3 separate regions of the Homo sapiens genome follow, and regions 2 and 3 are each reported to be linked to region 1. The links are microRNA targets in miRTarBase. Many come from high-throughput screens and were not tested one by one. Region 1 holds a microRNA gene; each other region holds the end of a gene's coding sequence.
The links. Region 1 holds the annotated microRNA hsa-miR-3675-5p (UAUGGGGCUUCUGUAGAGAUUUC, at 1,870-1,892, shown strand). A microRNA usually pairs through its seed, bases 2 to 8, with sites in the 3' UTR of a target mRNA and lowers its output. Matches are read on the target gene's strand: a 7mer-m8 pairs with bases 2 to 8, a 7mer-A1 pairs with bases 2 to 7 and ends in A, and an 8mer does both.

Region 1 (3,349 bases):
CATATGATCTATATCCACCAGAGCTATATTTATTCCCAAATCTCCTTCTAAAATACAAACCTGTACTTTCTACTCTTAACTTCTAAATTTACAAAGGCCTCATATGCATCTCAGAGTCACAGATGCTAAAACTTAACCGGTTTTCTGAGGATTATTTGGGGAAGGGGTATGCATGCAAATGTATACACATAATTCATGTGATTTAGGAATATTGACTCTATGACTTCCAGATGCAGATTTAGAACCTTTTTAAAAAATATTTTGTTTTTGTTGTCTTGCAAATCAGCCAGATCTGCAACTTACCAGAGTAAAGCGAAGCCAAGCGGGACCCTTAGGAAATGCACTAAGATGTCATCCACTTTCAGTGTCAGCCTGTGAAAATACAGGCGATAGAAGAGAATGAAGAGAACCTGAAGGAATTTCTGGAACCAAAGCTAATATTAAGCAGGCCTCTTGCTGGCAGACCAGTGGAAACTGTAGCCTGGTCAACGATCTGTCTAGATTGAGGAGGTCTAAAGTGTAGCCACAGGTTCAACTACTTTTCTGTTTGTTTCCCAACCTCGATTAAACTCACTAAATTTAGGGACAAAAAAACAAAACAAAACACGATGTTCCCACGCAGTCTCGAACCAGAGACCTTTCATATGTGAAGCGAACATAATAACCACTACACCACAGAAACTGCATATACACCAAAAAAGGCAAAATATCATCATGAAAATCTTAGGTCAGCCATTTCTATTATCGTTTCCAAAGTAAGAAATTCAACTGCATTTCGAAATTCGACTGAAAAAAGCCCAATAAGCACCAGCCATCAAGAAGACTATGGCTCCCAATAGGCCCAGGCTTAGCGTTCCGCGCCCACCCCCAACACGAAAACCATGGGGACCCACACCCGGGCTTCGGGGACACATACCCGGGCTTCGGGCTCCCGCATCCTCCCCTGGGTATGCAGTTCCAGAACTAAGCGCCGTGTGCGGGATCCTCCCGGCTGACACTCTTCGGCTCCCAGAAGCTGCAGGAGCCGGCGGGCTTTGAGCGTCCGAGCCCTGGGCGCCCCGTGCCTCTCAGGAGGGTGGACGCCGCCCTTCCAGGGATGCGGACCCCGCCTCGGGGCCTTTTCCCCGGCGCCGGCCGTCGGGGCTCTTGGCTCTTCTCGTCCTCCCAGGAACCGTAGGACTCTCCTTGCCCTCCCTCCCGTAGGCCGAGGGGCGCGAGCTGCGCCTGTTTCCTCACGGACCCTTTGGCCTCAGCGCCTCGACGTCTTGCAATTGTTAGCTCACGGCTCTTCCTCCTATAACAAGGCCCTTCCATGTCATGTCCCCTACTCCCTCTTAGCACCAGAGAGATGCCGCCCCTGCCCCACAGGTCACATTCCATGAGTGGTGAAGTTTCTAGAGTTGTAACCATGGCATCTCCAGCCCTGTGTGTTCCTCTCCATGCTCCCCATTGAGCAGTCTTGATCCTGTATTAGCCCCAGGAAATGAAATAGAAACAGGACCCTACGTTAAAAAGTTGCAGTGGAGATGTGGTGGCCACCAGGGGCTGGAACTGTGGGGTGACTGAGAGTATCCAAAGCCCTGTGGCCAACCTACTGGTGCTGAGTGTGCTGGTGAGCCTCTCTGTCAGCTGGCTTCCCCGGGCCAGTTGCTCCCGGAAGCTCTGTCCCAGGTAGTAGTCAATGTCATTGCTCCTTAAGAGATCCTCAAAAGATTTTACTGTATCTTTTGCATGCTGGGTGAGAAGATAACAAACACCTCTCCCTTCTCGTATTTTTTGCCGTAGGTAAGACAGTTCCCGGGGCTGATCCTGAATCAGGGAATCATATTTCCTAATGCAGGACAGAAGAGGAAAGGGTGGATGATAAGTTATGGGGCTTCTGTAGAGATTTCTATGAGAACATCTCTAAGGAACTCCCCCAAACTGAATTCTGGCACGTAAGCCATAGGAGGTATTTAAGAGTAAATTCTACCCTGATAAATTATTGCACTAAAAATTTAGTATGGGCCGGGCGTGGTGACTGACGCCTGTAATCCCAGCACTTTGGGAGGCTGAGGCAGGCAGATCACAAGGTCAGAAGTTCGAGACCAGCCTGGCCAATATGGTGAAACCCCCTCCTCTACTAAAAACACACAAAAAAACTAGCTGGGCATGGTGGCACATGCCTGTAATCCCAGCTACTTGGGAGGCTGAGGGAGGAGAATTGCTTGAACCTGGGAGGGAGAGGTTGCAGTGAGCCGAGATGGCACCACTGCACTCCAGCCTGGGTGACAGAGTGAGACTCTGTATCAAAACAAAACAAAACAAAAAATTTACCATGCCACTGTTCTTCAACTGTTCTATATATGTTAATTATATGTCCCTAGATAAATCGTAAGGTCTGTGAGAATGAAGATAGTTCTGCGTTTCACATCCCTTACAGCACCAGCATCACAGAGATTCACAGCAGATACTCAATGAATAATTAGACTCATCTCATCCTAAGTCTAGATAGGACCTTTCATGTCTTCTGTTTTAACCACCACCTGATGTCTGAATTTCTTCTGTGTTGTGATACTGTGGCTGACTGTATTTTGCAATCATGGCCATCACATAAACTCTCATGCCATCAACTGATGAGACCCAAAACAAGAGACCCTAAGTGAGAGCCACCCAGCTGAGCCCAGTCAAACCACAGAACCATGAAGCATAATAAAGTACTGTTTGAAGTCACTAAGTTTTAGAGTGGTTCTTACTTAGCAGTAGATAACCAGGACGCATACCAAGATGAATGTCTGTGTTTTCAACACAAAGTGTCAATAACACTGATAACTATGGCAAATAGCATTGAGAGCTTAATGTATGCTGGGCACCATTCTAAGCACTTGTACTAATTTTTTTTTTTTTTTGAGACAGAGTCTTGCTCTGTCACCCAGGCTGGGGTGCAGTGGTACCATCTCGGCTCACTGCATCCTCCACTTCCCAGGTTCAAGCGATTCTCCTGCCTCAGCCTCCTGAGTAGCTGGGATTACAGGGGTGCACCACCATGCCCACCTAATTTTTATATTTTTAGTAGAGACAGGGTTTCACCATGTTGGGTAGCCTGGTCTCGAACTCCTGACCTCGGGTGTTCTGCCCACCTCAGCCTCCCAAAATGTTGGGATTACAGGCATGAGCCACCACACCTGGCCAGCACTTGTATTAATTCATTTAAACCTAATATCCACCCTTTGAGATGGGTTCTGTTATCATCCTCATTTAATAGGTAATGACAAAGGCTCAGAAAGGTTAAGAAGGTTGCATGGGTAGTAAGCATCAGAGCTAGGCAGTCTGATTCCAGTATTACCACTATACTATGCTATACTATACT
Region 2 (3,349 bases), not on the chromosome of region 1:
TTGCTCCATGTCACTGGCCACTGGGCATTGCCTTTTAAAAAACCTCTTGCCAGCCTGATGGGGCTGGGCTGATCCTGGGCCTGGTCACCAAACTCCACTGTTTTGCAGAGCGATGCCACTTCAACGGAGAGTGAAAGTGAAGACAACTTCCTCACGCTGCCTCCCAGGGACCACCTGGGACTTACTCTCTTCTCCATGCTCTGCTGCTTCTGGCCACTGGGCATTGCTGCCTTCTACTTCTCCCAGGGGGTAAGAGCACCTGGGGCCCAGGTCCCTTCTCTGGCCCGTCACTCTACTGGAGGGCTTGGCATCCCGTCTGCAGGATGGGGTCAGGGGCCTGGCAGGCTGGGCTGTTTGGCTGGGTGTGGGGACACTCCTGTTCATCAGCATGTCTCTCTCCCTAGACCAGCAAGGCCATCTCCAAAGGGGACTTCCGCCTGGCCAGCACCACCTCCCGCCGGGCCCTCTTCCTAGCCACACTCGCCATCGCCGTGGGGGCCGGTCTCTACGTGGCTGTGGTGGTGGCTCTGGCAGCTTACATGTCCCAGAACGGTCATGGCTAGTAGCCAGTAGGGCCTGCATCCTGACTCCCCTGCCCACCTGAGGAAGCAGTGGGGCTTGGAGTTGCAGACCCTATGGAAAGGCCCGGCCCCTGAAGATGATCCCGTGAGAGTGGCTTGCTGAGGGGGAGACCCCCATTCCACAGCCTGCAGAGCTCAGCCTTCACTTCTGCTTGCCCGCTGCTCCCAGCCCCAGAGCAGGGCCCGGGGCGCCACTCTCTAACCCAGGCTACAGACGGGAAACAGAAGGCAGGGCTGCCCACCAGGCCATCCCAGCAGGGCCTAGCTCCATCCATTCTGCCCATTCCCTAGAGGATCTCCTGCCCTACAGCCAGCCCACCACCTACCCTGCCAACCTCCCCACAGAGAAAGAGCAGGAGGTTACAGGGAGAAAAGGGGGTGCCCAGAGCACAAGGGGACCCGTCCCAATCCTTTCAGCCCACAGGGATCTTCACCTGGGGACAGCCTGAGCTTCCCCCAACTCCACTGTCTGGCCCCATCATGCCCAGACCTCAGCAGGCCAAGAAGGAAATACGTGGAGGCAAGGGGGCCTCTTGCTGTCTCTGATTCTAGAGGGTGCTTATCTCTGCATGGGCTTGTGAGGCACTGTAGATTCTAGATAGGGAAGAGGAGCCTCGGTATGTAAACTCTGAACCAAGGGCAGGTTCTTGGAGCTTCTTCATGCGGGTGCAAAAGGCAGTTGCAATGACAGAGAATAGAGGGTCCTGAAATATTGCTGTACTACATGACTCTTCCTACTCTCCCCCCACTCCCCGCCCCTATCATCCTTTTCTGGGCTTTGCCTGGGGGTCCGTGAGCTGGTGCCATCACAAGTAGACTAGACCCAGAGAGTGCCCTCAGCTCACCAGCCACTGAGCGCACGGCCCTAGGTCCAGCCCTACAGAAAACGCAGCAAGGAGAGACCCTAGGGAGTAGTGAGTATAGATGAGGGAAGGGACTCAGGGAAGGAATGGCCTGCTGAGTAGTCAGCGGTGCTTAGGAAGGCTTCCTGGAGGAGGTATCCCTTGAGCAAGTCCTAGGATGAATAGAATTCATCTAAGGGATTTGGTCACATAACTCTTTGTATTTGTAGGCAGGGATGTGGCAGGAACCTTCCATGGGAAGCTTCCAGGCTGTTTGGATTCTGCCTGGAACATCTGGGCTGGAGCCAAACTACAGCCATTCCTAAGGGTTCTGCCAACTCAAGGAGGAACGTCACACCTGTCTCTCAAAGACCAATGATGTTTTCCCATCTCTGAATGCTAGGGGGTCAGTGGTGGGTACCTGGTTACCCCTGGGGCATCTTCACTGATATCTCTGCTCAGTGCCAGTCTCAACACCCTCAGCCACTAGGGCACATCCAGAATTTTAGAGACATCTCCAGGTAGGCGGGGGGCAGCACCAATGTGGGCAGGCCTGTCTGGACTCAAGCTACAGGCCCCTGCTGTGCATGATGTGGGAACCTGGTCATTCCCATGCCCCATCCAGAGCCCAGGGCTGTGGCTCCACCACTGAGCATCCCTTGTCCCACTGTCCTCCCCTGCCTCGGGCACTGCCCAGCCCTCCACTCCTGCATCACAGCAGTTTTAAGGTCCCATTATTGTACTGATTTATCCTTGTAATAAATGTTTCTGTAACACCTGGTGCCCTCTAGGTATCTTGCTGTGCTACCTGCCCCGCCTTTGCCTGAATCCCATTCTTCTCCAAGACTGACCTGTTGCTATGTCTGCTGCTCTGACCCCTGGCAGCCTGCGGAGAGGACAAGCCCACGTATGGGCCTTAGGAGGAGTGGTGGCCAGAGTGTCTGCACCATCCCAGGATTCCTCTGCTTGGAGTAGTCTGGCTGTAGAGTGATGGCCTGCATTTGGCTTGCTCTAGGCAAGCCAAAGCAAGATCCGTGCCTGGAAAAAAAGCCCTTCTAGGCTCAAGAGCCTTGGAGGACAGGGAGGAAGGGATGTGAGCCAAGGTGACTGAGGCTCCATGGAGCTGCCTGGAGCTACCAAGGGTGGATACAGGGTGTGAGGGGGCCAAGGAGTCCACGCCCCTGCTGCCTGCTCCTTCACCATCTCTTCCATCCCAGGAGCCGCTCCTGGACCATGTGGAGAGGAAGGCATCTCTGCCTGCCTCAGGCCCCAGCTCAGCACCAAATCTCCAATATCCTCTCAGACCTGAGCCCCCAGGAGCCTGCCTGGGCCAGCACAGGGACTGGCCTGGCCTCTAGGTCACTTGGATGGAGGGCCCTGGGGAGGCAGGTTATGCACATCCCATATCCACGTGTGCACCTACTTGTAAGACACAGCTGTGCACGTATGCACACACACATGCTGCATGGGTTGCGAACCCCAGAAACAGAGATTAGCCTGTGAGATGGATATGAGGGGCTGCTGTTGGGATAACGTTTGTAAAAGCATGGAGAGGGAGGCAGATCTGGGCAGAGGGAGAGGTCAGGCTGCAATGCAGTCCTGAATGACAGGCTGGGCCAACCCACAGGGGAGCCAGAGTTGACCCAAATTGGGGTGAAGAGCCAGGTCTTTCCACTCCCTCATTGACCAGTCATTAGATGTGGGCCACCCAGAAAGAGGGTGTGACCTCAGGCAAGGCAGTGGTCTTCAGCTGAGACAACACAAAAACATTTGCCCTGAAGACTGTTTGCTGCCAGGACCTGCAGCAGCTGGAAAGCTGTCCATCCTTCCTGAAGGGATCCTGAGTGGCATATCACCACGTCCACCACACCCACCCACCCAGCAGCAGACGCCCTGGTGCCCACCTAGATCCCCTCTGCATTCACC
Region 3 (3,000 bases), not on the chromosome of region 1:
ATTGCACCCGGCCAATGTGAATCCAGTTTTTAAAAGCCAGATTCTGTATTGCCTGAGAGTAAGTTATCTAGATTGGATTCTCTACAATTGAGAATTTGAAGATAAAATAAAGTGAAAGTTCCTTTAACTTAAGCATTGTTTTGCTCTTACAACATGTAAGGCTGAAACAAGTGCCCATGGGTTTGAAATGAAGCTGTCCTGACCTAGCGTTATTCTCAATGCTAGATGGTGTGTTGAGACCTGTCCCACAGAAGGAAGAGCAGCACCAGGACAAGAAGCTGCGCCTCGGAATCCACTAAGAAGGCCTGTCTACACTGCAGGGGAACCTCAAGAACTTTTCATTGCACTTCTAAAATTCAGCCTTGTTCATTCAGAAAATAAGGATGGATTTTGTGAATAATTGAAAAGATTTTTTAAGGAAGCTAATTTATTTCTAGGATACAAATGGTGTTAATAAGAATATTTGTCTTTTAGATTTATGTGTGGGTTTTCCATAATGTAGTAGTGTGTTATTTTATTACACGAAATGAGGGAGCAATAACTTCAACCAATGTAATCACCAACAGGGACTGATTTCTATTTATCTTGACTTTATATTAGCCAATTTGAAAGGGTCTGCTTCACAAGAGGTCATGCCTCTGCAGGGAATCACACACCTTTTGAGAAATATTAATTCTTTTGAATTACAAGAGTGACAGTTAGTAAACTGCTCCAGGGAAATAAGTGTCATCTTTTAAGAGTCAGTGTATAGCAAACCAAAAGATCACATTTATACCCAAAGCTTTCTAGTAATCAGAATTTACTTAATTAGAATTGACTCATAAAAATAAAGTTAGTGGACTTTGTCTCCATTTTTAAAGTATATTTTGTAAATGTTAATTCTGTGGTCCTGTTTATCACAGACTTTGGGTAGCAATAGGAAGAGAGTGTTATTCTGAGACAGTGTCGCTGCTTGATATCACTGACTCTTGAAATCACTAACAGTGAACCTCAAATTTGGTTATGATGTTAACAGAGAAGAAATATTTGAGTCTGGAATATTGAAACTAGCTTTCCTAGAATTCCATTAATAAATGCTGCTCCCCCATATAGTCTTCCCTTCTGTATAATTAACATAGGTTGTCTCATGGCTTTGATCTTCAAAAGGAAGAGCCTTTTAAAAACATTTGCCAACCTCAAGAATAAATACTGAAAGTCTTGAAAGTATGGTCATTTCAGCTATTCCAGATTGCTGTCTGTGATTTCTCACATTTTTATTTGCTGAGAAACATTCAGAAAATTATTCCAAAAATGAAGGTACATTTTCTGTTCTCTCCTAGGTTAGAGAGGGGTGGCCTGGGGTGCTTCATGAGAAATGTCTTCCTGGATCTGCGGTGGTCAGGTTTGCCTCTGCTTTTGTTCCCTGCCTTTCCGCCACATCACACGGCCTCACTGGGCTTCCTACCAGTTTCTCAGAATTACACGCACGACCATCCAAACATTGGCTCCATGCCAGGGCTGTGACTGCAGCCTGTGTAGGACCATGGGGAGTTCAGAGTCATCATACAAGGCAGCCAAGAACTGCCATAAACACTACACAGATGGAGGGCATGGGATAGGACAGGAGAGGAGGTGATGTACACTTAGAGGTAACTAAGGCTAGTTTGAAAACCGTGAATTAAGATATTCTTATCAGTATAAAAACACTGAGATTGCTTACCTCCCAAATTGCTTTATTGTATTAACTCTCATGCTTCAGCTCTTGGATTTGTTGTTTCTAACTAACATGTCATGTACACCAAACATTTTATAAATCAATCAGTAAATATTTTGTAAGACCCAAAATCCTGGCATATTGCCAGGTCTGTGGATTTGCCTGTTGGGTGTTGGGATGGGATATCAGAGGAAGAAGCATACAAGTGGGAAAAACTGTGATTAGAAAGGGAAAAATAGGCATTTCCACAGTACTATTAAGAGAGGCATGATAATGCCATTTTTTTTCTTCTGTACAACTGGTCAGATTTCAATAAATAATCATTGATGGTTTACTGTGTAGCCTCAGAAGGTGAAGTCTATGAGGGCAGGGAGGTGTGTGTGTGTGTGTGTGTGTACTTTTTAACTGCTGAACCCCAGTGTCTAGAACAGTACCTGGCACACAGTAGGCATTCCATAAATATTTGTTTATTGATTGAATGACTGCTAAACACTGCTAGACTGCGGGGATGAGATGTGTGAGAAATGCCTCCTGATCTTAAGACACTCACAGTCAAGTGGAAGATACAAGCATGGAATCAAGTAATTAAGAAAAATGATTCTCAGGCCAGGTGCCGTGGCTCACACCTGTAATCCCAGCACTTTGGGAGGCTGAGTGGGGTAGATCACTTGAGGTCAGGAGTTCAAGACCAGCCTGGTCAACATGGTAAAACCCCGTCTCTACTAAAAATACAAAAAAAAAAAAAAAAAAAAAAAGCTAGACATGGTATTGCATGCCTGTAATCCCAGCTATTTGGGAGACTGAAGCAGGAGAATCACATGAACCCAGGAGGCAGAGGTTGCAGTGAGCTGAGATCATGCCACTGCACTCCAGCCTGGACAACAGAGCGAGACTTAGTCTAAAAGAAAAGAAAAGAAAAAAATGTCTCTGGACCAGCAGACTATTTGTTAGAAGTGCATATTCTTAGGGTGCTCCCTAGGCTTACTGAATTAGAACCTCTCAGGGTGGGCCCAGCAAGCTGGGGTTTCACGACCTTGCGGGTGATTCTGGTGACCTTTAAGGCTGAGAACTGCCATTGTGGATGTAACTGTAGGAACAGTGGGGGCACACGAGGATTTACCAGCACTCTGGGGAGTCATGGAAAGGACCCTGTAGAGGCAGAGGTGATGAGGTGGGGCCTGAGGGGATCCAGGGGTTTGCCAGGTAAACAGTGGGAATGAGACAAATTTCTGGGAAAAAGTGATGGAGACAGACTGCTGAGCCACCCCAGGAGCCCGCCTGGGTTTGGAGAAGCTCTGTGGGGCACT

Region 2: miRTarBase lists SYNDIG1L as a target of hsa-miR-3675-5p. Seed matches in the 3' UTR shown: 7mer-m8 at 1,054-1,060 and 7mer-m8 at 2,038-2,044.
Region 3: the mRNA of CDADC1 is a reported target of hsa-miR-3675-5p. Seed matches in the 3' UTR shown: 7mer-A1 at 1,083-1,089.

Annotation. Positions count from the first base shown.
Region 1 is chr1:16,857,531-16,860,879 of GRCh38, reverse strand. MIR3675 (microRNA 3675) reads left to right here and starts at 1,859; the gene lies at 1,859-1,931. It also overlaps the pseudogene PDE4DIPP9 and the pseudogene TRV-CAC11-2.
Region 2 is chr14:74,404,749-74,408,097 of GRCh38, reverse strand. It overlaps SYNDIG1L (synapse differentiation inducing 1 like), which reads left to right. Exons shown (of 4, transcript NM_001105579.2): 3 at 109-249; 4 at 405-2,199. The coding sequence ends at 563. Among named protein-coding and RNA genes, the nearest start is that of SYNDIG1L, 20 kb to the left of the region's middle. RefSeq lists an enhancer at 459-960.
Region 3 is chr13:49,291,459-49,294,458 of GRCh38, forward strand. CDADC1 (cytidine and dCMP deaminase domain containing 1) reads left to right here. Exons shown (of 10, transcript NM_030911.4): 10 at 226-2,027. The coding sequence ends at 299. Among named protein-coding and RNA genes, the nearest start is that of CDADC1, 45 kb to the left of the region's middle.